4 separate regions of the Homo sapiens genome follow, and regions 2, 3 and 4 are each linked to region 1. The links come from fine-mapping of genetic effects on gene expression. A gene starts in region 1. Each other region holds a variant in brackets. All regions are shown on one strand. Distances are between the middles of the regions.

The links. PIP is the estimated chance that this variant, and not a neighbour inherited with it, causes the effect.
Region 2: its variant is fine-mapped to the expression of NMT1 in whole blood (TOPMed, PIP above 0.99).
Region 3: its variant is fine-mapped to the expression of NMT1 in whole blood (INTERVAL, PIP above 0.99).
Region 4: its variant is fine-mapped to the expression of NMT1 in lung (TOPMed, PIP above 0.99).

Annotation. Positions count from the first base shown.
Region 1 is chr17:45,056,684-45,064,561 of GRCh38, forward strand. NMT1 (N-myristoyltransferase 1) reads left to right here and starts at 4,634. Exons shown (of 12, transcript NM_021079.5): 1 at 4,634-4,777. The coding sequence starts at 4,647. It also overlaps a transcript of DCAKD not described here. RefSeq lists enhancers at 3,414-4,405, 4,265-4,444, 4,406-5,397, 4,545-4,904, 4,758-5,052 and 1 more.
Region 2 is chr17:45,100,423-45,108,300 of GRCh38, forward strand. It overlaps NMT1 (N-myristoyltransferase 1), which reads left to right. Exons shown (of 12, transcript NM_021079.5): 9 at 2,529-2,699; 10 at 3,287-3,454; 11 at 4,437-4,574; 12 at 5,197-7,878. The coding sequence ends at 5,217. Among named protein-coding and RNA genes, the nearest start is that of MIR6784, 10 kb to the right of the region's middle. RefSeq lists enhancers at 3,104-3,604, 6,437-6,938. The variant A/G (reference allele first, on the strand shown) is at 3,497.
Region 3 is chr17:45,091,592-45,099,469 of GRCh38, forward strand. NMT1 (N-myristoyltransferase 1) reads left to right here. Exons shown (of 12, transcript NM_021079.5): 4 at 2,094-2,212; 5 at 4,603-4,694; 6 at 5,537-5,653; 7 at 6,791-6,961; 8 at 7,814-7,878. Among named protein-coding and RNA genes, the nearest start is that of MIR6784, 19 kb to the right of the region's middle. RefSeq lists enhancers at 6,537-7,037, 7,038-7,538. The variant C/G (reference allele first, on the strand shown) is at 4,172.
Region 4 is chr17:45,109,556-45,117,433 of GRCh38, forward strand. It overlaps PLCD3 (phospholipase C delta 3), which reads right to left. Exons shown (of 15, transcript NM_133373.5): 8 at 7,077-7,229; 9 at 5,789-5,935; 10 at 5,539-5,689; 11 at 4,695-4,811; 12 at 3,884-4,050; 13 at 3,567-3,702; 14 at 3,308-3,457; 15 at 1-3,149. The coding sequence ends at 3,061. It overlaps MIR6784 (microRNA 6784), which reads right to left and starts at 4,878; the gene lies at 4,812-4,878. RefSeq lists enhancers at 2,375-3,240, 3,241-4,105, 4,972-5,837. The variant T/C (reference allele first, on the strand shown) is at 4,083.

The DNA.
Region 1 (7,878 bases):
AGGCTGGTCTCAAACTCCTGACCTCAGGTGATCCGCCTGCCTTGGCCTCCCAAAGTGCTGGGATTATAGGCATGAGCCACCGTGCCTGGCCCTTTTTCCTTTGAGACAGAGCCTCGCTCTGTCACCCAGGCTGGAGTGCGGTGGCGTGATCTCCGCTCACTGCAAGCTCCGCCTCCCTGGTTTACACCGTTCTCCTGCCTCAGCCTACCAAGTAGCTGGGACTACAGACGCCCGCCACCACGTCTGGCTAATTTTTTGTATTTTCAGTAGAGACAGGGTTTCACCATGTTAGCCAGGATGGTCTCGATCCCCTGACCTCATGATCTGCCCGCCTTGGCCTCCCAAAGTACTGGGATTACAGGCGTGAGCCACTGCGCCTGGCCCTTTTTTCCTATTTATATAGAGACGGGGCCTTGCCATGTTGTCCGGGCTGGAGTGCAGTGGCATGATCCTGGGTTCCAGCGATCCTCCCACCTCAGCCTCCCAAGTAGCTAGAACCATAGGTGCATGCCACAATGCCACGCTAATTTTTGTATTTTTTTTAGAGACAGGGTCCTCTATGTTGCCCAGGCAGGTCTCACACTCCTGGGCTCAAGTGATCCACCCATCTCAGCCTCCCAAAGTGTTGGGATTACAGGCATGAGCCACCTCACCCAGCTATATTTCTGCATAACTCCATAAGGCAGAACCGGGCCAGCTTTTCACAAACCAAAATTGTTTCAAAGTGGAAAGCTCTCGGCTGGGCGCAGTGGCTCATGCCTGTAATCCCAGCACTTTGGGAGGCCGAGGCAGGCGGATTGCCTGAGCTCAGGAGTTGGAGACCAGCCTGGGCAACATGGTGAAACCCCGTCTCTACTAAAATACAAAAAATTAGCTGGGCATGGCGGTGTGTGCCTGTAATCCCAGCTACTCGGGAGGTTGAGGCAGGAGAACTGCTGGAATCCAGGAGGCAGAGGTTGCAGTGAGCCGAGATAGTGCCACTGCACTCCAGCCTGGGCAACAGAGTGCGACTCCATCTCAAAAAAAAAAAAAAAACAGTAATTCAGGCCAGGTGCAGTGTCTCACACCTGTAATCTCAGCACTTTGGGAGAGCGAGGTGGGCGGATCACCTGAGGTCAGGAGTTCGAGACCAGCCTGGCCAACGTGGTGAAACCCTGTCTCTACTAAAAGTACAAAAATTAGCTGGGCGTGGTGGCAGGCACCTGTAATCCCAGCTACTTGGGAGGCTGAGGCAGGAGAATCGCTTAAACCTGGAAGGCAGAGGTTGCAATGAGTCGAGATTGTGCCACTGCACTCCAACTTGGGTGACAGTGAGATTCCGTCTCAAAAAAAAAAAAAAAAAAAAAAAAGCCTGGGCGTGGTGGCTCACACCTGTAATTCCAGCACTTTGGGAGGCCAAGGCAGGTGGATTACCTGAGGTCAGGAGTTTAAGACCAGCCTGGCCAACGTGGTGAAACCCCATCTCTACTGTAAGTACAAAAATTAGCCAGGCATGGGGGTGCGCACCTGTAGTCCCAGCTACCGGGGAGGCTGAGGTGGCAGGATCACTTGAATCCAGGAGGCAGAGGTTGCAGCAAGCCGAGATTGCGCCATTGCACTCCAGCGTAGGCGACAGAGCGAGACAGTCTCAAAAATAATAATAAATAAAAATAACACACAAAATATCTTTTTATCTTTTATTTTATTATTGTAATCCCAAAGTGCTGGGATTACAGGCATGAGCCACCACGCCCAGCCTACTTTTTATTTTTTTTGAGACAGAGTCCCACTTTGTCACCCAGGCTGGAGTGCAGTGGCAGAATCTTGGCTTACTGCAACCTCCGCCTCCCAGGTTCAAAAGATTCTCGCGTCTCAGCCTCCCAAGTAGCTGGGATTATAGGCGCCCACCACTAAGCCCAGCTAATTTTTTTGTATTTTCAGTAGAGACGGGGTTTCGCCACGTTGGCCAGGCTGGTCTCGAACTCCTGACCTCAGGTGATCCACCCACCTCGGCTTCCCAAAGTGCTGGGATTACTGGCATAAGCCCCAGCGCCTGGCCTGGCTTTATTATTCTTCTTCTTACCTCTGACCCCCCCCTTCCCTGCAGCTGCAAATAGGGCAATCGCGTTGAACAGCAGTCTTAGACCCCGGAGAGTTGAGTGTGGTGACAGCTCTCAGACTGAGTGGGCATCTTTGACTGCCTTCCAAAGTCAAATATAAATGACTGAGGATTATCTGCTGCTTTGGATCATAATTACTTATGCTTATGCCATTGATATAAAAACAGAGTTGAGTTGGCCGGGCGCGGTGGCTCACGCCTGTAATCCCAGCACTTTGGGAGGCCGAGGCGGGCAGATCACGAGGTCAGGAGATCGAGCCCACCCTGGCTAACACGGTGAAACCCCGTCTCTACTAAAAATACAAAAAATTAGCCGGGTGAGGTGGCGGGCACCTGTAGTCCCAGCTACTTGGGAGGCTGAGGTAGGAGAATGGCGTGAACCCGGGAGGCAGAGCTTGCAGTGAGCCAAAATCGCGCCACTGCAATCCAGCCTGGGCGACAGAGCAAGAGAGCGAGACTCCGTCTCAGAAAAAAAAAAGAAAGAAAGAGTTGACTATATTTAGTTCTGTGTTTTATTTGTGTTTTCTTTCCCTGAGTCAGATGGGAACTGTTTCTTCCCGCCCTGCCATTCTTCCCATGTTGAGATCTTTCCCAAAGGCAAAGATCATTTCCCTTTTTGGCCATGGAGCACTCTGATGGTAAGAATTAGTCCTCTCATCACCCACCACACTCAACCCGAATAGGAAATTTCCAAGAATGGGAACCATGTCTTTGGGCACTTAGGCGAGATTACTCAATCAAAAGAGTGAGACTCAGGGACTGAAACATTCAATCAAGGTTAAAAACAGATTAAAATGTGGCAGTTACCTTTTTTCCCCTGATATAGAATACGCACTGGAGTCACAGTTACCTTTTAGTAACTGATTTCCTTGAGTGAATAGTGTATCAGAAAATGGGACTTTTATGGTGGCAAAGAATTCAGAGGGCCTGGGGCACACAGATCTGGATTTGTATACCGATTTGCCACTTAACCAGCTATGTGACTGTGCAATTTACCAACCTCTCAGGGCCACATTTTTTCATCTGTCAAAAAGGTCAATATGGCCAGGTACGGTGGCTCACACCTCTAATCCCAGCACTTTGGGAGGCCGAAATGGGCAGATCACGAGGTCAGGAGTTCGAGACCAGCCTGACCAACATGGTGAAACCCCGTCTCTACTAAAAATACAAAAATTAGCCAGGTGTGGTGGCGTGCGCCTTTAATCCCAGCTACTCAGGAGGCCGAGGCAAGAGAATCGCTTGAACCCAGGAGGCGAAGGTTGCAGTGAGCCGAGATCGCACCACTGCACTCCAGCCTGGGAGTCAGAGAGAGACTCCGTCTCAAAACAAAACAAAACAAAACAAAGGTTGAATAATAATAATAGGACCTATATTGTAGACTTGTTGAGAGGATTAAATGAGATAATGTACGAAATGCCTTACTACAGAGTCTGGCACTTATTAAAGAAAGAGTTGATGTGGGCTGGGTGCCGTGGCTCACGTCTGTAATCCCAGCACTTTGCGGGGTTGGGGTAGGAAGATCCTTAGAGGCCAGGAGTTCGAGACCAGCCTGGGCAACAAGGCGAGACCCTCGTCTCTACAAAAAATATATAAATTATCCGGGTGTGGTGGCTCATGCCTATAGTCCTAGGTACTTGGGAGGCTGAGGTGGGAGGATACCTTGATTGCAGTGAGCTGTGATCTTGAGCCATTGCGCTCCAGCCTGGGCGACAGAAGGCGGCCGTATTTAAAAAAGAAAAAAGAAAGAAAGAAAGAAAAGAAAAGAAAAAAAGGGTCGTTGTGGAAAATTCTTGTGGGGAATTAAAGGGACCACGTGTGCGCGAAAGAGCTTGGCGAAGATAAGTACCTGGAGGCCAAGATGAGGCGGCGAGCCCTGCCTCCCTAGCAGTGTGGTCTCCTGGCTTAGGGTCAGTGCTTCGCACAAAAAAATCCACTGCCTCTCATGAGACCTTGAACTGCCAATGACCGCAGGTTGCCCAGACTCCCGAGTGAGGAAGGCGGCCAGGAGTCAACTAGGCTTCTTGCGGAAAAGCCCACTCTAAGAAGGCCTGGGGCATTCCGGCTCCAGGCAGGTAGCACCCGCGGGCCTCAGGCCCTTTCACTTACCCGGGAAACGTAACGGTCCTTAACGGCAGCCAATAACGGCTCCCAGCGGCCCAGGCACTGGCAAGGGCAGGCTGAAATCAAACCTCGGATTTTGGAACCTCCACGCCTGAAACCCTAAACCAGCATCGAACTACAACTCCCATCATGCCAGGCGGCCGCCCGGTTCCCAAGGGTCGGTCCCACCAACCTTGCGCCCCTTCTTTCCTCAAAGCGTGGCCGAATGCCTAGGCTTCCGGGTATCAGTGGCCCCGCCTCTTAATCCGACCGGAGCCGTCCCTCGTGATTCCTGGGTATTGTAGTCAGTTTCCTGGGAAAGAGTCGCTCCTAGTGGCAGCTCGCTTCGCCAGAAAAACTACAAAACCCAGAATGCAGCGCAAATTCCCCTTGTCCAATAGGAACCCCCCATGTAGTGGGGCGCGGAGCCCTGCTCTCGCAACTCAAGATGGCGGACGAGAGTGAGACAGCAGTGAAGCCGCCGGCACCTCCGCTGCCGCAGATGATGGAAGGGAACGGGAACGGCCATGAGCACTGCAGCGATTGCGAGAATGAGGAGGACAACAGCTACAACCGGGGGTAACGAAATCCTCGGAGTCCAATTCCCGTCCAGCCTCCCACAACCTGGGTCTCTGGGGTGCGGGGAAGTCACCGGGAGCTTAGTCTAGCCCCACCCTCATGTTCTTATTGGCTAAGTCACTAGGATTCTGCCTGGCGATTGGTTATTGCCTTTGTCATTTACCAAGGGTGGGTGCTCTGGATATTAAGGGCCGGAGACGTTCAGTACTTTTATTATATAAAAGTTCTATGCAGTGTTCCACTCGTGTGCTTCAGGCCATTCCTGGGAAAAGAGCATGTTGGACGATGGTTTTCGATGGTACAACACAGGACAGTCTAGTAACAGTACAGTTCAAAGGGAACGTTACTTATAGACGTGTTGTTTGAACAACGTGACTAGCAATAAACGAATCATAAAACATTTCGCAGCAGTTCACCCTCAGTGAGGAAACTCATCAGACTATACAAACTGTATGTATAATTATATTGTAAAATATCACTACCAGAGAATCCCAAAATATAAACTCACCTTATAAACCTATGTAATTAACGGTATGGTAATGCTTTGATTTACATAGTTTCCATTGCTCCAAATAATCCATAAGTATCCTGAACGATATATTAATATAATTAAGTCTTCGAACATCTTTGCCTTGTTACCTTTGCAGAGCAGCCCCAGGCTTCAAGAAATGAGCGATGTTGTTTCTTGGAGAGTATTTGGAATCCTCGGGCTCCATACTGCCTATCCTGTACTTTAGGGTCTTGCCATTAGTTACTATTTGTTCCTAGGGATGAAGAAACACACCAGGCATTTGAATGTTGAATTCTTTTCCCAAATTAGTTTTTACTTCTGTAAGCCACAGCTTATTCATCTTTCTTCACATGGTTAGTGCCTGGCACTGGCACTCACGCTGTCTCTCCCCATCTTCCTGTCTATATTTGTAGATATATTTTTAAACTGAAAGTCGTGAGAGATTTTTGGGTGTATAACTTGCTGAGTCTGAGGTAGTCTGATTTTCGTAGCCAGCTTGTTATTCGCAGTATTGGTGGCAGTGCAGATATAAAGGTATAAAGACCAAGGACTGCGTAGAAGAGATGGTCCCACAAGATTATAGTACATATTTTTATTGTATCCTTTCTATGTTTAGGTATGCTTAGATACACAAATACTTACCATTGTATTATAGTTGCCTGCAGTACTCAGTAACATGCAGCAGCCTATTGCTCCTAGGCTACAAACCTGTATAGCATGTTACTGTAATGTACACCATATAGCCTAGGCATTTAGTAGGCTATACCATCTAGATTTGTGTAAGTACACCCTATAATGTTGGCAAGGCAAAAATCACCTAACCATGCATTTCCCAGCACATATGCCTGACGTTCAGTGAAGCATGACTGTATTTAAGTGGTTTATAATCTGCTTGTGGTAAATCTTAGGTTAAAAGATCTAGCTTTTATGTTCTTCAGCCGGCATTAAAAATCACAGGAAGGGCCGGGCATGGTGGCTCATGCCTGTAATCCCAGTACTTTGGGAGGCAGATCACGAGGTCAGGAGATCGAGACCATCCTGGCTAACACTGTGAAATCCCATCTCTACTAAAAATACAAAAAATTTAGCCGGGCGTGGTGGCGGGCGCCTGTAGTCCCAACTACTCGGGAGGCTAAGGCAGGAGAATGGCGTGAACCCAGGAGGCAGAGCTTGCAGTGAGCTGAGATCACGCCACTGCACTCCAGCCTGGGCGACAGAGCGAGACTCCGACTCAAAAAAAAAAAAAAAAAAAAAAAATCACAGGAAGAAAGTAGAGGAATAGGAAGCTTGCCAAATTTAGTTTTTATAAGACTGTTCTGTTGCTGTAACTCACAACAGATCTAATGTAATAAAAGTCTTCTTTTGAAGTTTGATATTCCTAAAAATGGAAGAGCTGAGAAAGAGGAAGTAGGAACAGGAAGAAGGGAAAGTGAAGCTCTCCTGAGTAGAGATCTGAATCACAGATGAGAGTTGGTGAATGTGAAAGTCATTCCAGAAGTGAAAGTGTGGCATTTTCTTTGCTCTTTTTGTAGTTGCTTTTATTTTTATCTTCTTAACTGTTGTCCTGACCAGTGTCCTTAGGTTTGTGCCCTATAATCTGTGAATCACTTTTCAAAACTGTGTGCCAGAAAGTTATTTTATTGGCCTGGCGTGGTAGCTCACACCTGTAATCCCAGCACTTTGGGAGGCCGAGGCAGGTGGATCACTTGAGGTCAGCAGTTCGAGAACAGCATGGCCAACATGGTGAAACCCCGTCTCCACTAAAAATACAAAATTTAGCTGGGCATGGTGGCGTACGCCTATAGTCCCAGCTACTCCGGAGACTGAGGCAGGAGAATCACTTGAACCTGGGAGGTGGAGGCTGCAGTGAGTTGAGATTGCACCACTGCACTCCAGCCTGGGCAATAGAGCAAAGCCCTGTCTCAGAAAAAAAAGTGGCACACAGTGGCTCATGCCTGTAATCCCATCACTCTGGGAGGCCGAGGCGGGTGGATCACGAGGTCAAGAGATTGAGACCATCCTGGCTAACATGGTGAAACCCTGTCTCTATTAAAAATAGAAAAATTAGCTGGGCATGGTGGTGCATACCTGTAGTCCCAGCTACTCGGGAGGCTGAGGCAGGAGAATCACTCGAACCCGGGAGGCGGAGGTTGCAGTGAGCTGAGATTGCGCCACTGCACACCAGCTTGGCAACGGAGCGAGACTCCATCTCAAAAAAATAAATAAATAAAATTATTTTATTTGTAGTAGAAGTAAGTGATAACCTTAAAAACTTTGACAGTTTGCAGTGGTGTCTCTGTGCATGGTTATGGTCTGGGTGAAAAAATTATGTTTATTAGCGTCCCAAATCTAAAGATCTGTGAAAATGAGTTTGGAGGTAGTAGGTGAAAAACCAAGGGCCTAGTCTGGAGGAGAGAGTCTAATTCTGGCACTAAGAATCTGGGGTAGAGTCAACATTTTTCCATGAACTTTGAGAGGAAATGGTTTTGGGGAGAAGCAGCAATGTGGGAAAATGCAGCACGGCACAGTAGAAAAGCATGGACTTTGGAATAATTTAAATCTGGTCTGAGGCCAGGCGCGGTGGCGCACA
Region 2 (7,878 bases), 44 kb after region 1:
AGTCGTGGTGTGGTGGGTGCCTGTAGTCCCAGCTACTTGGGAGGCTGAGGCAGGAGAATGGCATGGACCCGGGAGGTGGAGCTTGCAGTGAGCCAAGATCACGTCATTGCACTCCAGCCTAGGCGACAGAGCGAGACTCCGTCTCAAAATAAAAGAAGCCTGGGCGTGGTGGCTCACGCCTGTAATCCCAGCACTTTGGGAGGCCAAGGCAGGCGGATCACGAGGTCAGGAGATCGAGACCATCCTGGCCAACACGGTGAAACCCTGTCTCTAATAAAAATACAAAAAATTAGCTGGTCGTGGCGTGGCGGGCACCTGTAGTCCCAGCTACTTGGGAGGCTGAGGCAGGAGAATGGCATGAACCTGGGAGGCGGAGCTTGCAGTGAGCCAAGATCGCACCACTGCACTCCAACCTAGGCAACAGAGCAAGACTCCGTCTCAAAAAAAAAAAAAAAAAAAAAAAAAAAAAAAAAAGAAGGCCAGGCGCGGTGGCTCACACCTGTAATCCCAGCACTTTGGGAGGCCTAGGCGAGTGGATCACGAGGTCAGGAGATCGAGACCATCCTGGCTAACATGGTGAAACCCCGTCTCTACTAAAAATACAAAAAAAAATTAGCCGGGCTTGGTGGTGGGCGCCTGTAGTCCCAGCTACTCGGGAGGCTGAGGCAGGAGAATGGCGTGAACCCGGGAGGCGGAGCTTGCAGTGAGCTGAGATAGCGCCATTGCACTCCAGCCTGGCCCACAGAGCGAGACTCCATCTCAAAAAAAACAACAACAACAAAAAAAGGATTTTGCCATGTTGCCCAGGCTCATCTGAATTCCTGGGCTCAAGTGATCCACCCACCTCAGCCTCTCAAAGTGCTGGGATTACAGGCATGAGCCACTGTGCCCATCCCAGTAGGGATTCTTAAAATCCCTTCTCAGGTGGGCGGTGGCTCACGCCTGTAATCCCAGCACTTTGGCAGGACAAGGCGGGTGGATCACGAGGTCAAGAGATTGAGACCATCCTGCCAACATGGTGAAACCCTGTCTCTACTAAAAACACAAAAATTAGCTGGGTGTGGTATGTGCCTGTAATCCCAGCTACTTGGGAAGCTGAGGCAGCAGAGTTGCTTGAACCTGGGAGGCAGAGGTTGCAGCGAGCCGAGATCGCACCATTGGACTCCAGCCTGGCGACAGAGCAAGACTCCGTCGCAAAAAAAAAAAAAAAAAAAAAAGGAAAGAAAGAAAAAATCTCTTCTCTTTCCTCGGAGTGCTTCTTCCTATTGGTCATCAGTGCACACAGTCACTGCGTTCCTGCTGACATGAGGCTGCCTGCCTGGACTCCTCAGCCTCTAAACAGGATTGATCACTCTGAAATCAGGCTAATCCACCTAGTGATTGGGGTCATTAGTGTCCCATCTTGAGAGACTGCTGCAGTACCGTTAGACACTGCCAAAAGCACAGGCTTGGGGGACTGTGGTATGTGTCTTCTCCCTTCTGTTCTCATGACAGATCTGCCTTGCGTTCTAGGCCGGTGGGCAGGCAGGCAGAGAGCATTCTTAGAGTGCTGCAGCAGCAGAAGAATGTCTCACCCATGTCTGGGTGGAAACCCCAGCATGGCTGTGTTTTCAGTCCAGGATTTGAGGTATCATTGTGGGAGCTGCCATGTAGAATGAGGTCATTGAGCGTTCCCCTAAAGAGACGAGGATTTAGCAAGGAATTTTAGAGGCTGGAGGTTCTAGAACTGAAGTTTTAAAAGCAATTCCTGCACTGGGAAGCATTGTGTCAGGCACTGACTGAGGCCTGTAAACTGTGACACCACCCTGTTTGCAGATTGCCCCAAGGCCACCTTTGTGTATCTGAGCCTCTGGGGATGTTCTACCAGCCCCGGTATTTGCTCCACAGGATCACATGGTTTCATTCCACTGAAGCATTTTTCTAGCAAAAGCAGCTGCCGGGTGGGACGCTGACTGGGGATAAAATCCTGGGAGTATGCTGCTTTTCTTCTGAATGTAACCCACAGCCGTGTCTCTCTGGGAAGTACTGGTGTAATAGTGTCTGGGTGGGCAGACCCTGGCTGGGCCCTGGGGTCTGTCCGCGAAGTGCTCTAAGTCTAGCAGAGAAAGAGCAGTGAGTGTGGGATGGCATCAGTCACAGTTCAGTGAGAAGCCTGTGAGGACTGTTGGGCTGCGTGGGCAGAAGGTACAGCTAGAAAGGCCAACCTGGCCCAAGGGTAGAAATTCTTGTCTTCTGGGGTGGGGAGTTTGAAACAAGGGTGGAGCATGAAGGGTTGTGTTTTCTTAGGGAGTCAGCCTGGGGCCATGTAGATGGTTGATTGATGTAGCAGTCTGAGTCTGCCTGGACTAGGAGGGAAAGGGCCAGAAGATACGGAAGAGGCAGGCCCTGTGCCTGAGGAGATATGCACGGGGGTGCAGGGAGCCGCCGAATGACCAGGGATTCTCTCTTGAGGGCCTGATCTGTCCTTGCCATGGATAGATCCAGGGTGATCAGCTCATCTCACTCCATCTCTTCTGTCTTGCCTCCAGACTCCCAAGACAGCTGGGCTGCGACCAATGGAAACAAAGGACATTCCAGTAGTGCACCAGCTCCTCACCAGGTACTTGAAGCAATTTCACCTTACGCCCGTCATGAGCCAGGAGGAGGTGGAGCACTGGTTCTACCCCCAGGAGAATATCATCGACACTTTCGTGGTGGAGGTGAGTCAGGGAGTGGTGTTCCAGGTCTCTAACACGTTCCCAGAGAGGCACCCCCCTGAGTGGCCGGGTTCCCAGGGCTCGAGTGTTGGCACCTTAGACTTCCTTGACCATCCGTGTTTGGTCCTCCCTAAAAACAGGGAGTTGGTGCTTGAATTTGCTGAAAAGATACCTCTGGATCTGGCTTGAGCCCTTCTCCCCCTCTGCCCCACTTTGATAACACAAAATAGAGAGAACTGAGCCCCGCTTAATCCTTCAGGAAAGCCTGCAATTCCCTGCCTGTCCCAGCTTAACCCAGTGCTGACCAGACATAGGAGACACAGTCTGGGGGGATGTGAGCTGCAAGAAGAGGTCCCTGGCGGTGCCCATGCTGGGAAAGAGGTCTGGCAGGTTCAGCCCACGATCACGGCTCTGTCCTCAAGTGCCCTGAGCCAATGTCCCTCCTCCTCCCCACATGTCCTGTTGCAGTTTCCAGCCATTTATCTAGAGGGGCAGAGCTGCCTGAAGGTGGAGTGAGAGAAACATTTTGTTCCCGGGCCGCAGTGCCACTGTGCATGCTTGACATTGCCTCTTTATTGCCTTCCCTTCAGAACGCAAACGGAGAGGTGACAGATTTCCTGAGCTTTTATACGCTGCCCTCCACCATCATGAACCATCCAACCCACAAGAGTCTCAAAGCTGCTTATTCTTTCTACAACGTTCACACCCAGACCCCTCTTCTAGACCTCATGAGCGACGCCCTTGTCCTCGCCAAAATGGTGAGGAGCAGACGGGGGGGTCTCTGGAGATGTGCAGGGAAG[A/G]GGCAGTGGAGCCATGGTGAGCACAGCTCCCGGGACGCAGCCTCCCATGGGCTGGAGGCTCTGAGCCCTCCTCATCTGTTCTGCTTAGGCAGGGTTCCCGCAGTTTTTAGGCAGAAACTCAAAACTTGGAGGGAACAAGGAGCATCCGAAGTGAAGGCATTGAACTCCTCCTGATTCATTTCAGTGAGTTTCGTTCTCACAGGAGGCGCCACCAAGGAGCCTGAATAGCCAGGCCTTCCCTGGGAGGACAGGGCTTCTCCTCACAGCTTTCCCAGCGTGGGAAAGGGGTGATTGCTGTCTGTCGTGGTGAGTCATTGGAGCATCCAACTGCCAGTAGCGGATGGCGAGCCCGTCTGTCAGTGCTTTGCTGTGGGTTCTGGTAACCTGTGCCCAGCCCAGCCCAGCCTGCTGTAGGCAATCTGGTCCCTGCCCTGTGAGAGCTTCTGCTCCAGTTGGTGAGGTTTAGGAAGCATCTTCACAGTCTCCAAGCAACACAGCAGGTGTCATACAACATGAGGTGCACTGAGGGCCTGAGAGTTGGGGCATCCATGGAGTAAGGAAGCAACACAAACCCCATGTAGCTGACCAGAGCCAGCTTCTCAGAGGAATGGGCTCAGGGTTTGGACTCCAGAGAGGACTGTGGAAATTACTAGAGTTTCAGGGAGGCATAACCAGGAATAGCAAGAGCCCCGGCCTGGACACTGAGTACATATGTGTACACTCTGAGGGACACTGGGCAGAGGCCAGGCTGGAGGGGGCGCTCAGAGTGTCCTGAGAACCACCCGGAGAGCGGGGATTAACGTGGAAGCAGCGGAGCTTCTGAGGGAACCTTGTTCTTGTGGCTGCCCACAGGACAGCTTTGAAATGGCAGCAAAGGGGTAGGAAGGAGGCTGTCCCCACCTGTCCTCACCTGTTCTTGTTTGTCCCTGCTGCTTTGCAGAAAGGGTTTGATGTGTTCAATGCACTGGATCTCATGGAGAACAAAACCTTCCTGGAGAAGCTCAAGTTTGGCATAGGGGACGGCAACCTGCAGTATTACCTTTACAATTGGAAATGCCCCAGCATGGGGGCAGAGAAGGTAGGCGACACATAGCCAGAGTCCAGGCTGCCCGGCCCAGGGTGTCCATGTCTCCAGCAGAAACCGGGCCATGGGTTGAGGAGACAGCCGCAGTCTGGGTCCTTGTTACCTCGAGTTGAACCTTTGAAAATGCCCTCCCTCTGCTGGCCAGACCAGCAGGTCAGCGTTCCCCTCTCAGCAACTGGTGTGAGGATGGCAGAGGGGACAGAGCCACACAGTAGCACGAAGATCATCTCCAATGAGGCCTTCCCACGTGAGGGAACCGTGGAAGTTGAGTTGCCCACGGTTTGCCAGGAGGGTAGGGCTGGGGGAACTCTGAGGAGGTTTCCTCTCCTGAGCTGCTGCCCTCTTCTGGCATGACACTTTCTTAGCCCTTCCTCCCCCAGTGCCACAGGGGACATAGGGGTGAGCTGGAGCGTGGGCCAGTTTTCCCTGGGAGGTCTGATGGACGTGTGAACCCTGGTGTGGAGGTTGAGTGTGGGGCCGGCTGGGTGTGAGTCTGCTCCCACAGCACAGGCGGTGGACCCGGGCCCAGCCACTCGGAACTTCAGGGATAGGGGGTGTGGGAGAGTCTTTGGGCCACTGTCAACTCAGCTCTGCCTCTCCCTGTTGGCTTTCCTAGGTTGGACTGGTGCTACAATAACCAGTCACCAGTGCGATTCTGGATAAAGCCACTGAAAATTCGAACCAGGAAATGGAACCCCACCACTGTTGGTCCAATTTTCACACACGTGAGAATCCCTGGCAAAGGGAGCAGAACTGAACCGGCTTTACCAAACCGCCAGCGAACTTGACAATTGTATTGCGATGGCGTGGGCTGCGTGACGTCACCTCCGGTCGTGTCTCTGGTCTCCGTGTTTTCCAGTTAATTACATCCTCATGCAGCCGTGATCAAGGGAATGTAACTGCTGAAAACTAGCTCGTGATTGGCATATAATGGAGTTAACGGGTGAATAATAAAAGTATATATATATATTATATATATATAAATATTTTAAATATCTTTCATGTTCCAAATGTACAAGGATGTTTGGTCTTTAATGAAAAGCTGAATCCAGATCATTCCTCAGAATGAGGACCCGAGGACAGTGGCAGACAGACGCGTTGGCACAGTTCATGGTTTCCTCCAGAGGAGACATTGGCTTATCATGGGGAAAAAGAGGATCTGGAGAACCTCATCCAGCTCCCCTTCTGAATCAGCTGGGATGACTGGCTTTGAGAAGGAAGGGAAGATGGAACAGGCTCAGATCTCATGGGATAGCACGTGGAGCTCTTGGCTGGGGCTGACCCTGGGCAGGGACTTTCCTGCAGGGCCAGACCTGCCTGCATTCTGAGACAAAGCAATGGACGGTCCGCAGAAGCAGACCTCATTGATTGAGTCCTTTCTTCCATCCCCTTGGCCTGCTCCCTGTAGGAAGTCATCCTGCCAACTGATTTAAAAGGGCTCTTTAGCCAGTTGTTGCCAACCTTATAGGGATGAGTCCCCTGTGAGATTTTGCTTTTCCACTGCCTGGGATGATGCAGTTTGAAGAGGCCCTTGGACCTCCTTGTAACATCAGGGACCTTTGGAGACCATTATCAGTGTAAGCCCTGCTTAGCTCATCTTAGAGCAAAGAGCCAGCACCCTGATGTCCCTGGGGTGGCTAGGCAGGAGTGGCGTGGGGCCAATACCCAGACCCCTTCAGCCACCAGCCCCTGGCCTGTGCCTTCCAACCCATTAGCCATTTCTTGTTGTGCCCCTTTCCAAGATACAGCCTGCAAGTGGTAGCAAGAAGTGATTAGAGGCAGATCTGGACTTGGCAACAGAAGTGGTTTCCCATCTCCATTGTCTGAGTCTGATTTTCGCTGATGCTGTTTTGTGGATTTTTGTGGTAGTGATGGTTGTCAGTGCTGCCAGTTTCCCAAAACGTAATCAAGCCTCTGGTCACATGGCTGTCGATGTAGGCATTCTGGAGTGGTGTTCAGCCAAGTGACCGGGCAAAATTGGGCTGTGAAATTGTACTTCCAGGCTTGGATGTAATTTTTGCTCTAGAGAGAAGCAAGTGGTGGGAAGGAGGTAGCATGACGTGTGGTGTGCGGGTTTCCTTGCTGCCGTCACCTCTCCGCTCATACAGGAATGAAGCCTTAGCCAGGAGGCCAGGCTCAGCCCTGTGCCACTCACCGAAGCCACTTTCTACAGGCCAGCAGGGGCTTGTTGCAGGCTGTGGGTTTTGGTGTGGTTTGTCAGAGGCTAATTCTGCAGAGTTTCCAAAACCAGAAGACATCGTATGCTTGGGATGGGGGCCGTGCCACCCGTGGGAATGCTGCCCGCTCTGCAGACTGCTGCTAGAGCCAGCAACTCCACTAAGGTGGATTTTCATCAGGGGCCTGCAGGGCCCTCCCTTTTCCCATTGTTCCTGCGCTGCAAATTGCAGGCCCCAGCAATCGTGACTGACGTTTGCTCCTTGACTCCAAGAAACTGAGACCAAAGAAGCTGCTGTTCTTAGCAAGATGCGCACTGCATTCCACAGGTGGGAGGAGTCGGAGAGGCAGGGGCTTGCTTTGCAGCCCCACAGACAACAGTTGCACAGTGCCTCAAGCCCCAGAGTGGCTCACCCTGTCCAGACCTTTGAGGATATCAAAGGACAAAGTGCCCAAGTCTTTCCTACCTTGGGGGAACCTGGAACTTGGAAAGGCTCCCTGTCCTAGTCTTGATCTGTTCTGGGCCAGGTCCCAGCTTGAGCTGCCTCTGAGATTTGGGCTGTGCGGATCTCTGGAGTGAGCTCTGTTTCGGTTGACCCAGGTCATGGAATGGAAACGGTGAGGCCCCAGTGGCTGTTCTGGAAGAAACAGATCTCCTGGCAAAGGCCCCAGCATCTCCCTCACTGAAACCAGGTGGCCGGCTCCTCGGACTCTGCTTTATGTTGCGGTGAGAACTCTGCCCAGGTGTGCAGGGTTTGGCTTGTGGGCTGCTTGCTGCTCATCTGATTTTTGTCCCAGTAGTCCCTGCGTTCTTCATTCAACCCCTTCTGGGACTTCAGCTCAGAGAGCACCATCCCGGGGGTCAGGGCCTCCCCACAGGAGCCCTGCAGTGTGGTAGCGCCATGGCTGTCTCAAACCAAGCAAAGGAAGGACCCTGAGGCCTTCACGCTAACCGTCCTCGAGCAACTGCTGTTGGAAGGCCTCCCTGGGCCTGGCCCCCACCCTCTGCCACCCAGTCCTCCCAGCTGCCATGTTTCAAAGACGACCTTTACCTCCTGCCTTTGGATTGACTCTGCATTTGACCACGGACTCCAGTCTGTGTGTAGGGAGAGAGCTGAGTAGG
Region 3 (7,878 bases), 35 kb after region 1:
AGTTGGGAAATTAGCACCTAGATAAGACTAGAGGGTCTGGCCCTCAGTTTTGTAGGCTCAAAAATGTTTTTTTAATATACATAGCTGTCAGTTGGAAGCGGATTGACTTAAATTCACAAGAGCTACTTTATGAATAATCAAATGGTGGGTTTTGGCTGGGCGCCGTGGCTCATGCTATAATCCCAGCATTTTGGGAGGCCAAGGCAGGAGGATCACTTGAGTCTAGGAGTTTGAGACCAGCCTGGGCAACAGTGAGACCTCATCTCTATGAAAAATAAAATTAGCCAGGCGTAGTGGCGCATGCCTATAGTCCCAACCACTCGAGAGGCTGAGATGGGAGGATCGTTTGGGCCTAGGAGGTCGAGGCTGTAGTGAACCAAGGTTACGCCACTGCATTCCAGCCTGGGCAACAGAGCAAGACCCCATCTCGCCAGTCATGAGTTTCCTAACTAGGGAAGAAAAATATGACCTCTCTCCCAAGCAAACCTGTTGGGAAGCCTGATTACCAACAGAGCAGGCTGCTTCCCTGTTGTGTGTCCCTGCACTTTCCAGATCCTGACCTGCAGCACGTGGATAATGACTCATTTATTTACTATTTCCCCAGAAGATGGTATGTCTCATGAGGACAGGGACTTGGTCCTTTTTCCTGCTGTACACTAGGGGCTGGCATGGTCACTGAGTCACTGGTGCACGGTTGGTGCTCAGTAATGTGTCTGATGGAAGAGGGTGAGATGATCAGTGCCAGCGGTGGTGTCGTGTGCTGCAGCCTGATGCAGCCCTTTCCACCACACTTGCCCCACAGATTATCATTCTGGGAAGGTCTAGAGCTTCCTGTTACATGTTAGAATGAAATGTTTGGACTTTGGGAGGCCGAGGCGGGTGGATCACTTGAGGCCAGGGGTTTGAAACCAGCCTGGCCAACATGGTGAAACTCCATCTCTACTGAAAAAAAAAAAACAAAACACCAAAATTAGCCAGCGTGGTGGCGGACACCTGTAATTCCAGCCACTCGGGAGTCTGAGGCAGGAGAATTGCTTGAACCAGGGAGGTGAAGGTTGCAGTGAGCCAAGATCGCACCACTGTACTCCAACCTGGGCGACAGAATGAGACTGTCTCAAAAAAAAAAAAAAGAAAAGAAAAGAAAAAAAAAATATTTGGGATCAGGAGTCTGAAAGTCAGTAAAAGCATGAATTGAGTGCCTAGTCTATACAGAGCCCTTTGCTAGGAACACTGTTACTGGGTTGGTCCCTTTTGAAGACTCCATTTTCCAAAATGCACTAAACATTGCATTCTTCCCAGTGTAAACATGAGTGAGCCCATTGTAGAACCGAAATCATCCCAAGGGCCAGAATTCAGTGGTGAATCTCTCAGCATATATGAGTCCGATTGAGCTCTGGATAGGAATGAGGGCTGTGTCTTTGGAGCACTCCCCACATGCTCCCACAGAGGAGGGGCCTATCCTGCTCAGGGAGGGGATGTTGTGTCAGGGTGACTTCCCGGCAGCACTATGTAGACTTGGTGATTCAGCCCAAAGGCACTTGCAGGACTCTAAACACTGAGGGCCTGAGTTGGCAGTAGCAGTTAACTGGCTCACGCTGCTGAAAGCCAAGGCTGGCAGGGCCACGATTGAGCCTGGCGCCTAGAAGCCATCATCTGGTTCAGAAATGGGCCCAGTACATTGTTGTTGCTGTTGACACAAAAGCAGCCTTGTTGTGACTCCTTACAAACCCATCCAGACTGATGGGCCTGGGCCAGGGCCCTGACAGCACTCTTTACACCAACCAGGAGGCAGGAAGCCAAATTACTAAAGATAAATGTTTGTCATTCAGTGACCCAAGGGAGATTTAAATGGATTTCCAAAACACGAACCACCTTGGATCCCAGTGATTGTCCTGAGGTTTTGCCATGAATTGGCCCTCAGTTAGGGGCTAAGGGTAGCTGGAAAGACGGTTTGCAGTTGCCAAGCACAGAATGTTCTTCAGATAGAGGGCTCCTAGGGACAGGAGGAATTTGCTCTGGTTGAGTTTTGAACTGAGCCCTTTACTGCCCCGAGGGGGCAAAGGGTGAGGCTCACAGCTGTGCTCTTCTTTCAGGCGAAGTGGTGAACACCCATGGCCCCGTGGAGCCTGACAAGGACAATATCCGCCAGGAGCCCTACACCCTGCCCCAGGGCTTCACCTGGGATGCTTTGGACCTGGGCGATCGTGGTGTGGTGAGTGGGCCCTCAGAAGGTTACACCTGCGGGTAGGAGCCACTTTCACAGTAAGCCCTGCAGTCTCACCTAGACTACGTTTACTCGAGCCCTAGAGAGCTGAGCCAAGGAGGTCTGAACAGACTCCCGTCTGTAACTTCCTGGGGCATGGCCAAGACTCCACATAAATAGCTCTTAGCTTTTCTGGCAGGTTGGAAGTTAACCTCTGTAGGTCCCCGATGTGGATACCTGTTTTTCATTTATTCTTTTTTGTTCATTCATTTCCTCATTTTCTTTCTAGTCTGTCTCCTGACTGGAGCAGCTGGGGCTGCTAAATGAGGCCCTGTCCTCCCCTTTCCACCCCGGCCACCCAGAGCCCCTTGTTTTGACCTGAGGGATTTATTTCCCTTATAAAGAATGATGAAAATGTCGCCGGGCGTGGTGGCTCACACCTGTAATCCCACCGTTTTGGGAGGCTGAGGCAGGCGGATCATGAGGTCAGGAGTTTGAGACCAGTCTGACCAACATAATAAAACCCCATTTCTACTAAAAATACAAAAAATTAGCCAGGTGTGGTGGTGTACGCCTGTATCCCAGCTACTCAGGAGGCTGAGGCAGGAGAATCTCGTGAACCTGGGAGGGGGATGTTGTAGTGAACTGAGATCTCACCATTGCACTCCAGCCCAGGTGACAGTGCGAGACTCTTTGTCTCAAAAAAAAAAAAAAGTCAACAGAATTTTTTTTTTTTTTGAGATGGAGTCTCGCTCTGTTGCCCAGGCTGGAGTGCAGTGACACCATCTCAGTTCACTGCAGTCTCTGCCTCCTGGGTTCAAGCGATTCTCCTGCCTCAGCCTCCCGAGTAGCTGGGATTACAGGTGAGTGCCACCACGCCCAGCTAATTTTTATATTTTTAGAAAAGATGGTGTTTCACCATGTTGGCCAGGCTGGTTTCGAACTCCTGACCTCAGGTGATCTGCCCATCTTGGCCTCCCAAAGTGCTGGGATTACAGGCAATGAGCCACTAGGCCTGGCTTTTTTTTTTTTTTTTGAGACAGAGTCTGGTTCTGTTGCCCAGGCTGGAGTGCAGTGGCGCGATCTTGGCTTACCCCAACCTCCACCTTCCAGGTTCAAGTGATTCTCCTGCCTCAGCCTCCCAGGTAGCTGAGATTACAACCATCTGTCACCATGCATGGATAATTTTTGTATTTTTAGTAGAGATGGGGTTTCACTGTGTTGGCCAGTCTGGTCTCGAACTCCTGACCTCATGATCCACCCATCTCGGCCTCCCAAAGTGCTGGGATTACAGGCATGAGCCACTGCGCCCAGTCTTTTTTTTTTTTTTGAGATGGAGTCTTGCTCTGTTGCTCAGACTGGAGTGCAATGGCACAATCTTGGCTCACTGCAACGTCCACCTCCTGTGTTCAAGCAATTCTCCTGCCTCAGCCTCCCCAGTGGCTGGGATTACAGGTGTCTGTCACCACGCCAGGCTAATTTTTTTATTTTTTAGTAGAGATGGGGTTTCACCACATTGGCCAGGCTGGTCTTAAACTTCTGACCTCAGGTGATCCGCCCACCTCAGCCTCCCAAAGTGCTGGGATTACAGGCTTGAGCCACCACACCGGGCCAACAGAATTTTTTAATACCAAAGTTGGGCCAGCAGATGGAGATAGCTGAGAAGGCAGAAAAAGGCCTTTGTGGTTGGGTGTGGTGGCTCACACCTGTAATTCCAACAATTTGGGAGTCTAAGGTGGGAAGATCGATTGAGCCCAGGAGTTCAAAATCAATCAGCCGGGTCAATATAGTGAGACTGCCCCCGCTACAAAAGAAAAAAATTTAATAATTAGCCGGACATGGTAGTATGCCCCAGTAGTCTCAGCTACCCAGGAGGCTGAAGTAGGAGGATCGCTTGAAACCAGGAGTTGGAGGCTGCAGTGAGCCATGATCACACCAGTGCACTCCAGCCTGGGTAACAGAGTGAGA[C/G]TCTATCTTGAAAAGAAAGGAAAAAAGGCCTTTGTTTGGGCCAGATGGTAAAAAATCAGACAAGGTGGGAAACAGCAGTGACTCTCCGTGGTAATTCCTTGACTAGCTTCGAGAGTCGTCCCTCTATAGCACTTCACAGAAGTTGAGACCAGTGGCTCTCCATTGTTGATGGCGCAGAATGATGAAGTGGTTGGTTAGTTAGGTGGCATTCTCGGTCTGCCACTCTACCACGTGATGGCTCAGTTTTCTACTATAACTAGGGTGTTTGCTCCAAGAGTTCCTACCATGCCAGGGGGCAGAAGGATTTGTGAGACTCCACGTCGTTTTTGGTAGTTTGCTTCATCCTTCTGAAAAGCCTAGAGCCCCAGGGTATTGGAGTTGGTCTACTACCTGGCAGAATACCTCCAAGTGAGCTGCTTATTTCTTTACAGCTAAAAGAACTGTACACCCTCCTGAATGAGAACTATGTGGAAGATGATGACAACATGTTCCGATTTGATTATTCCCCGGAGTTTCTTTTGTGGTAAGTTGTGGGGGCTTTCTTGAGGTTCTTGAGAGGAAGGCATAGAGCAGATCCACCAGAGGGCACCAGAGTTTTCATCCCTGCCAGGGGCCAACCTTTGAATGGCAAATTAGTGTGTCATTTTTGAGTTCCTGCATCTGAAGGACACTTGCTTTCATTAGCACTTAGAATTGCAGCCTTGTTTAAGACAATTGACTGGGTGAGGGAGACCTTCGTAGAGCTAGTACCCAGGGAAGAGGTATTCATTGTCTGGTGACTTTATATAAGAAAGGAACGGGCATGAGACCTACTAAGACTGAAAGAAAAGAAGGCACATTTTCTATCTAGTTCCTGAGCATGCTCAGTTGTATAGCCTTGCCTGGCTGAGCCATCCACCTGCCCAGGCCACGTTTAATATCCAGGAAGAGAGAGGCATGGGCCGAAATGGAGAGGGACTACCTGAAAGGGAAGGAAGAATTTGTACCAGAAAGAGGGAGACAGGACACCAGAGCTCCAGGGTTGCCACAGTCAGCTCTCAACCATGGGACCCACTGGCCTCCGAACCAAAGATGCCAGTACCTTGGTTCAAGCTGTCAAAGTGAACACAGAAATTGGATCAGGCATGAAATCCTCAGTATGATAACCTTGGGTTGGATGAGTAACTAGGCCAAATGGGATGAGCAGCCAGAAATGGTGATGGCTCGATTCTGTGTGTCCAGGAGGGCTTGGCCCTAAAGAGAATCCAGCTATTAACCCTCAGGGAGGTGGTAGCACCAGGTCCGAACCAAATTTGGCTGTGGAGCCCAAGCGGCTTGTCCAGCCTGCCGGCAAGCAGCACAACCACCCCAGCCTCTCTTTTCCAGGGCTCTCCGGCCACCCGGCTGGCTCCCCCAGTGGCACTGTGGGGTTCGAGTGGTCTCAAGTCGGAAATTGGTTGGGTTCATTAGCGCCATCCCAGCAAACATCCATATCTATGACACGTAAGCACCTGCACCTACCCCCACCCCCCACAACACCGCCATCCTGCTTGGTCTGGGAGAGAGTAGAAAAAGGCTGCACAATGTGCCCCATGAAAGGAAGAGGGAAGGTCTCAGGAAGGGAGGATGCCCAGGTGCGGGGACTGCAGATTCATCCTAGGAACCACCTGTTCTGCTCAGAGTCCCAGCCAGCTCCCTTGTTTGTGGCCCAGGTTGGAAGGAGCCCACCCTGAGGCCTGGTGTGCCTGCTCAGCAGAGGCTTGTTTTTGTTTTTGTTTATTATTTTTTACATTTTATAGAGGCAAGGTCTTGCTATGTTGCCCACGCTAGTCTCAAACTCCTGAGCTCAAGTGATCCACTCACCTCTGCCTCCCAAGAGTGTTGGGAATATAGACGTGAGCCATTGTGCCTGGCCAGAGGCTTTTCTTAGTCTCACTCTGTTGCCCGGGCTGGAGTGCAGTGGTGCGATCTTGGTTCACTGCAAGCTCCACCTCCAGGGTTCAAACGATTCTCCTGCCTCAGCCTCCCAAGTAGCTGGGATTACAGGCATGCGCCACCACACCTGGCTAATCAGAGGCTCATTTTTGAACGCCTGTACCAGTCACACATGGAAGCACTTGAACAGCAGCAGAAATGGGCCAGAGCGAGTGTGACCCAGATTCAGATAGTCCTTGGGGCCTGTGATCTCTGCTCTTCATTTTCCCTGGAAGTGTTGAAACCATCTGCCTGCCACAGTCTTCAGGGCTTATTACCAGCTGTGTTCTTGAGGGAATCAGAACCCTTGAAACCCTAGAATTGCCTTGACCTGCCCCGTGGGTTCCCTGTGCTGCTTCCCTGCATGCTAAAGGTGGGATTCCCCAGCCAACTCCTAGGGACTCATCAGGGAGATGCTGGTGGTACCTTCAAATAAAGGTGTTTGCTTGGGTCCCACCTTCCTTTGGAAATAGATTCTGTTGAAGTGAGGCAGGCTCCTTGCCTGGTGGAGTGTGGTGGGGAGTCCCAGTACTGAGTGCAGGTGGCAGCTAAAAGTACACCCGTGCTGCAGACCTGGTCCTTCTAGGTGTGGCTGCACGTGCTTGATGGGATCACCATTCCCTTCCCTGTTAAAAACCTTGTCACCTGGATTTTTCCCCCTCTTAGAGAGAAGAAGATGGTAGAGATCAACTTCCTGTGTGTCCACAAGAAGCTGCGTTCCAAGAGGGTTGCTCCAGTTCTGATCCGAGAGATCACCAGGCGGGTTCACCTGGAGGGCATCTTCCAAGCAGTTTACACTGCCGGGGTGGTACTACCAAAGCCCGTTGGCACCTGCAGGTAAAACTGTCTTCCTGTAAGGCCCCAAAAATGCGGGTGTCTGCACTGTAGTTGAGGAGCATGTGCCACTGTGAGTCACAGCTCCGCCCTTAGCATCCCACCTCTGGCGTATCTGGTAAGGCGGGCACTTGGTGCCTGCAGGAGCCAGATGGGGAGCATGGAGAGGGCGGGAGGGTTGTAGGGATGGCAGATTGGCAAGTCCCTGCCTTGTCTGGAGGGCTCTTGGTGTCTGCTGGCTGCTGCCATTTGGAGATGGTGGGGGGCGGTACTGGTGGTTTGTTTTTGTTTTTAGGGATGAGCCCAAATCTGGATTTTTATGGGAAATGTCCTAAAGTTTTAAATGGTTGGCTCAAATTGTTTTGAATATTGTGTGCACCAAATAGAGCAAGTCAGCTATGTGATCTAAGGGCAACCTCTGCCTTAGAAAGTTGTTTAAAACAATTGAATAATCTCTCCTTAGAGAACTTTAAAAGTAAAAACACCAGGTGTGAAAGCAGAAGGGGAGGAGGGAGGAGGGTGAGTGCCTCTGCCATCATCTTCTGGGCATGACTACAGTCCTTTTCCGTTGACTTGATTCTAGGAGTGAGGATTGGTCTCCCCAGACAACCGCTGTAGCAAAGGAATAGTTTTTGAAATTGAGCAAGAAAAATAGGGAGAAAGAAAATCCAGGAGGAGCTTTGGCAGCACTCACTGTGGGGAGGGGGAGGCTGGAGAGCAGGGTGACACCACTGACTCCGGAGGCACCTGATGTGTCTCTCACGCCACCTGCTGGCCAGCTGGGGTCTCCCTGCCATTGTCCTTGTAATAGGGATTGGCCAGAACCCTGAGGACAGGACATTTGTGTCCCCACAGGTATTGGCATCGGTCCCTAAACCCACGGAAGCTGATTGAAGTGAAGTTCTCCCACCTGAGCAGAA
Region 4 (7,878 bases), 53 kb after region 1:
CTGACCCCCTGATCCTTTCAGGTCCATGACTGGTGCCTCCAAGCCCCTTTCCAGGGAAACTGAGAGGACACAGGACCTGCCTGACCCCTCTAAAGCCCCCCAACCCTCCTGTCCCAAACCAAGTCACTCAGGCTCCTATGGCCCATGCCTTTTTTCCTGCCCTTAGCTTTGGGCTGAGAGAACATAGCCCTATGTGTTGTTTCTACCCATGGGCCTCTGGGATAAAAAGCTGTGATTTCAGGCTGGGCATGGTGGCTCACGCCTGTAATCCCAGCACTTTGGGAGGGCGAGGCGGGTGGATCACGAGGTCAGGAGATCGAGACCATCCTGGCTAACACTATGAAACCCTGTCTCTACTAAAAACACAAAAAAATTAGCCGGGCATGGTGGTGGGCGCCTGTAGTCCCAGCTACTTGGGAAGCTGAGGCAGGAGAATGGTGTGAACCCGGGAGGCGGAGCTTGCAGTGAGCCAAGGTCGTGCCACTGCACTCTAGCCTAGGCGACAGAGCGAGACTCCATCTCAAAAAAACAAACAAAAAAAAAACCCTGTGATTTCTCCCTTGCTTCTGCTTCCCAGTTCACTTCCTTAAAGACTCTTGCCCTTTTGGCTGGGTGCAGTGGCTCACGCCTGTAATCCCAGCACTTTGGGAGGTCAAGGCGGGTGGATCACCTGAGGTCAGGAGTTCGAGACCAGCCTGGCCAACATGGTGAAACCCCGTCTCTACTAAAAATACAAAAATTAGCTGGGTATGGTGGCGGGCGCCTGTAATCCCAGCTACTCCGGAGGCTGAGGCAAGAGAATCGCTTGAACCCGGGAGGCAGAGGTTGCAGTGAGCCGAGATCACGCCATCGCACTCCATCCTGGGGGACGAGCAAGACTTTGTCTCAAAAGAAAAAAAAAAAAGACTCTTGCCCTTTCAAGGCAGCCTTCTCAGTATTGGGCCCTCATCCTAGCCTTCACCCCTTCCTCTTGGTACCAGATACGAAACCAGAGAAGCCAAGCAGGATGGGCACTCAGCCCTGGGTCTGGTGCTCACCTGACCCAGACCCCCCAGCCAGCCCCTGGCCAGACCTGGCTCTGCAGGGGCTGGGCAATGCTAATGGCTCTTCATTTGCTAAAACTGGACTTAGCCTCACTGTGCCTCCCATCCTGAGGCTGCAGTTTGGCAGCCTGACCCTCTGACAGCCCTGAGTGCCAGATGCCCGGGCTGCCTGGCCCGGCCCGCCTGGCTCGGCCCATTCCTTCTGGGCCCTTTTGATTCTGATTATCCTCTTTCAGACACACAAATTAACCAGAGCCAAACGCCACTCCCAGCATGAAGGAGCGGGGGACACTGCCACTTTCTGCATTAGTTCTTGGAGTTGCTAGAAGGTGGAGTCTGCCCCAGCCCTGTGTTTTGGTTTCTGTGGGGCTTGGGGCCAGTTCAAGGCCTATCCCAGCCCAGTTCCAGGCCACCCTCTGGGGACTAATGTCAAGTTCTGCCCTTGTCCAGTGCCGGCACTGTTGGCTGGCAGAACCTAAAACACCAGGCCTCCACATTTCACCCTGCTGGCAGGGGCGGGTGCAGGATTTTCTCCAGATTCTGTCGCCTAGTGTCCAGTGCGCTCTCCTGGCATTTCTATAGAGGCGGCCCAAGCAGCGTTTCCAGCCTTTGTGTAAAAGGCTGGCTGGCTGGAGGAAGGGAAGCCCGTGTCCTTGGGATTTGCCCTACTGAGCAGACAGGGGCCTTGAGCCCAGCCAAGCCTGGAGAGTGGCAGTCTGAGGGTCCCTCAGACTCCTGTCTCCTCCTCATTCAAGGCCCCTCTGTGTATGTGTGAGTGTGTGTGTGTGTGTGTGTGTGTGTGTGTTGTGGGGAGGCGCTGACCTGCTGAATTGGCATCCTCAGACAGTCTTGTGATACTCGCAGCAGCTTTAAGCCAGGAGCAGGGATCGGGCTATTTAGAGCTGTGGCATCTCCTGCTGCCACCCCCTGGCTGTCTTAGCCAAGTCCATGCCCTGTTGAGGGGAGAGGCCCAAGAAACTCATCCAGCCCTGTCCCTCCTCATGGGCCTGTGGGGGTGGCAGCATAGAGGTGCTCAGGGAGTGGCGGTGGTGAAATCAACGTGCTTCTTTATTTTTTAAACTAGATAGGCTCATTCTACTGTCTTCTCCAGGGCTCTTCTATGAAACAGTTACAAACCTACGGCCAGGCCAGGCAGTGGCTCACACCTGTAATCCCAGCACTTTGGAATGCTGGGGCAGGAGGATCACTTGAGGTCAGGAGCTCGAGACCAGCCTGGGCAACATAGGGAGACCCCCGCCCCCCCCGCCATCTCTACATAAAATTTAAACATTAGCCAGGTTTGGTGGCCTGTGCCTGTAGTCCCAGCTACTCAGGAGGCTGAGATGGGAGGATCGCTTGAGCCTGGGAGTTCAAAGCTGCAGTGAGCCATGATTGCAACATTGCACTCCAGCCTGGGCGACGGAGCGAGACCCTGTCTCAAAAAATAAAAACCAAAACCTACTGCCAGTTTCCCCAGGGCTTCATGCCTCAGCGCTCCCTTCTTGCTTTGAGAAGGGAAGGGGAGCTCAGGTTCCGGAGCTGGAGGGAGGAGTCCAGGAAGGCCTGGGGTAAAGGAGGGCTTAGGGGCTAAGCTCGGGGTCGGGGCCAAGTGGAGTGACTGCGCTCCTCTGGGGGAAGGAGGCTGGGATGGCCCACGGGAGGACAGAGGGGAACTGAGGGCCCACAAGTGTCCTGCTCCCCAAGTCTCCTGGCAGCAACAGGCTTGCTCCTCATAAGTCACAATGAGGGGTGGGCTGAGGACAAGAGGAGCTGGGGCCATCTCAGGGCCCCAGGGTTGGAGCTCACTGAAGTCACATGAACACCTTTCTGTTCTTCAGGAGGGGCCCAGGCAGCCCTCAGCACCCAGGTGAGACCAGCGCCTGGTGAATGGGCTGAGTGGGCCAAGTGGGTGGGCTGGGGGGCTGGTACTCCCACCACCTGACTCCAGAGGAGGAGAGGGCTCTGCAGGGGATGTGGACTGGCACTCGCAGAACCCCAAGGCGAGTGAGGTGGGCCCTCAGGAGCGCTGGATGCGGATTTGGATGAAGAGCGTGGCTGGTGACAGTGAGGCCCCGTCCTTGGAAAGCAGGTGTATGTGGCGGTACCCTGTAGGGAGGACAGCCAGGCCTCAGGTCCTCTGTGCACCCTGGGGGTCTGGCCCAGCCCGGGCCTGCTTCAGGGCAGGAAATTCGAGGCACAAAGGTGAACAGGGTCTGCAGGACCTGGACCCACATCCCTCTCCATCCCCACCAGCCTCCACCAACCTTGCTTTAGGCTGCTAAGAGGCAGTGTAAACTGGCCCACAAAGTCATTGGGGGAGGTGGCGTCATAATCTTCCACCACAAACCGGACCAGTGCCAGCTCCGGAGCCCGCAGCTGGAACTGCAGGGTCTGCCCCCAGCGGGGGTTGAAGCCTAGGGCACAGGGATGGCAGTCAGAGCCCAGGGGCCCCAGGACCCACCCTGCACCACCCTTCGCTCTCTGCAGTCTCCCCCAACCCCACTTCCGCCAGTGGCTGCCCACCATTGTTGAGCACGTAGTCAGTCTCCTGCCGGGCACAGTCTGCGGGCACCCCATGGATCTCAATGCGCACCAGGGGGTCCACAATGGAGTGTGGCTTCTCGGCATTCAGCTTGGGCAGCTGCTGTGCAGTCAGCACCTGTGGGTGAGGGAGGGAGTGGCTGGGGCCCACGCCCACCTTGGCCATCCCCTCATGGGCCTCAAGCTCACACCACCCTCACTTCCAAATGTCCCCAGCCTCCCTTGCCTTCCTCCACCTCACAAAGAGCCTTTCTAGAACCAGTCTGACCCCACACTGGGGCCCGTTCCAGCCTGCTGACCTGGATGCTGAGAGTGGTTCTGGGAGGTCCTGGGTACTCGGGGTCAAAGGTCGAGTCAGGTTGCCGCAGGCAGGCAGGTTTTAGGACGTAGCCACACTGCCCATTGACTAGGAAGCGCCCGGCATTGAGGTCCATCTCGTAGCCTGGCGTCTGGAAGTTCAAGGCCACTGTGGACACAGCAGGGTCAGAGCAGGGGCTC[T/C]TAGCGGCCCTGTTCTCACTACTCAGTTTCAGGGGACTGCATTCCTCTCTACAAAGGGCCTGGGGTCCCACTGTCTGCTTAGTGCTGCTCTGCTCCCACCATGACTTTAGGGGAGGGGGTCATGGACCCAGCCCCCACTGTCACCTGTACTTCTGCCCTGGGATCCCTCAAGACTGGGGTGGGAGGTACTAAAAAAGCCCCCACCCTCAGGGCCAGGCTTGGGTCAGAGCCAGGGGTCTGAGGAAGCCTGGGGTTTCCATCCTTACCCCAAGGAGACGATACAGCCCTCCTTTGGTGGGGCTCAGCGTCCCCCAGAGCCCACCCTTGTCAGTGTTGACTTAGTGGGACTGCCAGGTGTGTGGGGGTTGTGTGTGTCCGGGGGACATGGGAGTGGAGATTTTAATTTCTACCATGATAAAAATGCGAGACCTGTACACTGTCAAGAACAAACGAGCCTGATTTGATTTTCCCACCTACATTGCTGGCAACTTTAAAAATAATCAACAAAATGCGTGTTTCCACCGTCTGGAAGGCTGTGTGGGCCCCTCACTGCTGAGGCCTCCCCCACACTGTGGCACCCCGCCTGCTCTCATTCCTGTGGCCCCCACTTACCCAGCTGACAGCCCGAGTTCCACATCTCCTGGGGACTGTAGTTGGCTGAGTTCATCCGCAGCCCCAGCGGGTACACGCGGGTCAGCTGGCGGGCATTGTGCCTGACAAAGCTGTTCCCTGGGGCAGAGTTGGGGTGAGACCGTGACAGACTCCGGGGGTCCCTCACCCAAAGCCCCGGCCTGTAACCTCCAGGGAACAGAGCCCAAGCCCGTCCCCAGGTCACCCTGCCCCCGCTCCTCACTCTCTTCTGACCTAGAGTGAGAGGGGAGCTCACTGAGGAGGCTGCAGGGACCCCCTCCAGCCACACAGCCTGGCCCTGCATCCCCAGCCCCCAATTCCCAGCTCCTGACAAAGTTCCAACCAAGTACACTGAATGCCCACGGCCCTCCAGCTCCACTGTGGTTCCTGGAATTCTTCTCCAGGCCAAGGCCCCAGGCCTTCAACAACCTGTTCCTCCTGTCTGGAAAGCGCTCTCCCCTCTTCACCTGGCTGCTTCCTAGTCCTCCAGGTGATGTGTCCTCTCAGCATCACCTGCCCCAGGAATTCCTCCCCAGTGTTGCAGCAGCTGCTGGGCTCCCCCAGCCCCCAGCCCAGCCTGACCCATCACCCTCTATGGCCGGCCCCACCACAGGGCTCTGAAGGCAGACAGCAGGCCGCCCTCAGCGTGCCACTCCCCTCCATCCACCCTGGCATGTGCGGGGCCCTCATTCCCTCAGCCCAGCCCCTCTTTGGGGTCCTCTTGACCTCTTTACTGTCCCCCAAAGCCCCCTCAACTCCTTTCCAGACTCCCTTCAGGAGGTCTCTCACCCTCTCGCCCCCAGACACCCAGTGCCCCAGCTCCTACCTGCCTCCCGAATGAGTTTCTTGGCTTTGCGCTCGCTGAGGGAGCTGACCTGGCAGGGTTGTGGGGCGTTGGGGGCAGGGTGCAGGGTCCGCAGGCGGGTGGCGTGGCAGTACACAGCCAGGGCCGACAGCTCCGGGGAGATCTGCTTGGCCTAGGAGACCAGGCTCAGCGGGGTTCAGCTGGCCCCCGCTTCCCACATCCGTCCTCCCACCTTCCCCCCCTTCCCCACCCCACCCATCCCAGCTCTCACCAGCCGCCTCTGCGCTGCAGCCTCCACCTCCTCTTCTTCCTCCTCGTCATCCTCCTCCTCCTCCTCCCGATCCGACAGAGCCCGGCCATCCTCGCTCCGAGCAGCGGGCAACTTCTTTCCCTTCACCAGGACCCGGCCCTTCAGCTGCTGTGGGGGCCAACGTGGAGGATGAAGGGTTAGGCCTTCTCGCCCCTGTGGCAGCCAGTCAGTCAGTTATTCAACCACCGCCTTGTGAGGGGCTGGCTAGGGGTGGGAGGCAGGAAAGGAGACACAGAGATGAGCGATGTTTCTAATAGGAAAGAGTGGAGAATGGCCCGGGAGGCCATCAGGAAGGGATGCTTAATAAGGTCCCTCAACATCAGAATATACACAGCAGCCACTACAATGCACGCGACAGCTCAGGACTGAAAGGAAAGGGACCCTCTTCAAAGAAGATCTTACGTGGAAGAAGTGAGGCTACAACCTGGAATCACATGTCCTTTTTTGGTACCATTTAAAAGAGAAGACAGTACACATATGTACACAGGTAATGTGTGTGGGGAAATTCTTGAAGGACATGCAAGAAAGTTAGAGATGGTTACTTCTTGTGAAAGAGGACAGGTCAGTGGAGGGAGGGGAGCACTGCTCATCGCGTCCCTTAGTACAGCTCAGTTTTCTTTTACCATACGGGTGTGATTTTCACAGTAATAACAAAAATCACATCTCACACACACACGAGGGTGAGTCAACCCTGCCTGCATGTTGGGGATTGGAAGTAGGAGGAGAGTTTTCTCAAGGAGCCCGACAGGATAAATGTCTGGAGAGAGCCGAGGACGCGCTCTGGTGTCTGGGGGAGAGCAGGAGGCCGCCTCAGGCCCGAGAGTTGGGGAAGTGGATAAGGCCACAGGAAGAGGCGGCTGAAGTTGAGCTGAATTCTAAGCAGGTGACGCTTGGCAAGTGTGGATGGCCGAGAAGGGACTTCCAGGTGGAGAAAGTGTCAAGCGGGGCCTTGCAGGTGGGAATGGCAGAGCCTGCAGGACTCTACGGGCAGGGACACAGGGCCAGCAGGGCAAAGCCAGGTTACAGAAGAGGGTGTGTGTGTGGGGGGGTCTAGTCAAGAATGGAGAGCCAGAGGGCAGCAGAAGGACAAGACCAGGGGATGGCAGACCTCAGATGAACAGAGGAACAGAGAAAAGTTAAGGCAGCAAGAGGTGAGGGGTCCTGAGCCACAGAGGTGGCACGAGCAGTGCGGGGAGGCGGACTCCCACCAGACCTCCCTCCACCCAGGCTAGGGGCTGGGGGGCGTCACCTCTGGGGATGGCAGCTCCTCGGGATTTGGGGAGTCCAGCGCCTGTGTCACCAGCATGTCCCCCAGGATGGTGCAGAGGTGGCGGGCCATGGCAGCCTGCTGCTCCAGCCCGCAGTGGTTCTCCAGGGATAGGATGACAGGGTAAGGGGACAGCTGTGGGGGGAAGGGCAGCAGCTCAGAGCCACTCCCCTCCCTCTGCCAGTATCTCCCAACATCTGGCTCCCAGACCCTTCAGGACAGGCAGGCAAAGGCAGGGCTCTGGAGAACCCAGGGAAGCAGCAGACTGTCCAGGAGGCTGAGGGCGGCTGCAGGAATTATTTTTTTTTTCTTTGAGATGGAGTGTTGCTCTGTCGCCCATGCTGGAGTATAGTGGTGCAATCTCAGCTCACTACAATTCCATCTCCCGGGTTCAAGCGATTCTCCCTGCCTCAGCCTCCTAAGTAGCTGGGATTACAGGCGCCCGCCACCACACCCGGCTAATTTTTGTATTTTTAATAGAGATGAGGTTTCACCATGTTGGCCAGGCTGGTCTCAAACTCCTGACCTCAGGTGATCTGCCCACCTCAGCCTCCCAAAGTGCTGGGATTACAGGTGAGAGCCACCACGCCTGGCCGATTTTTTGTTGTTGTTGTCTATGCTTTGGTCTCTCTCCATCACCCAGGCTGAAGTGCAGTGGCACAGTCAGTCTCCCTGTGTTCTCCAGTCCTGGGCTCAAGTGATCCCCCCACCTCAGCCTCCTGAGTAACTCAGCCTACAGGCACATGCCCCCACACTCAGCTAATTTTTATTTTTGTTGAGACAG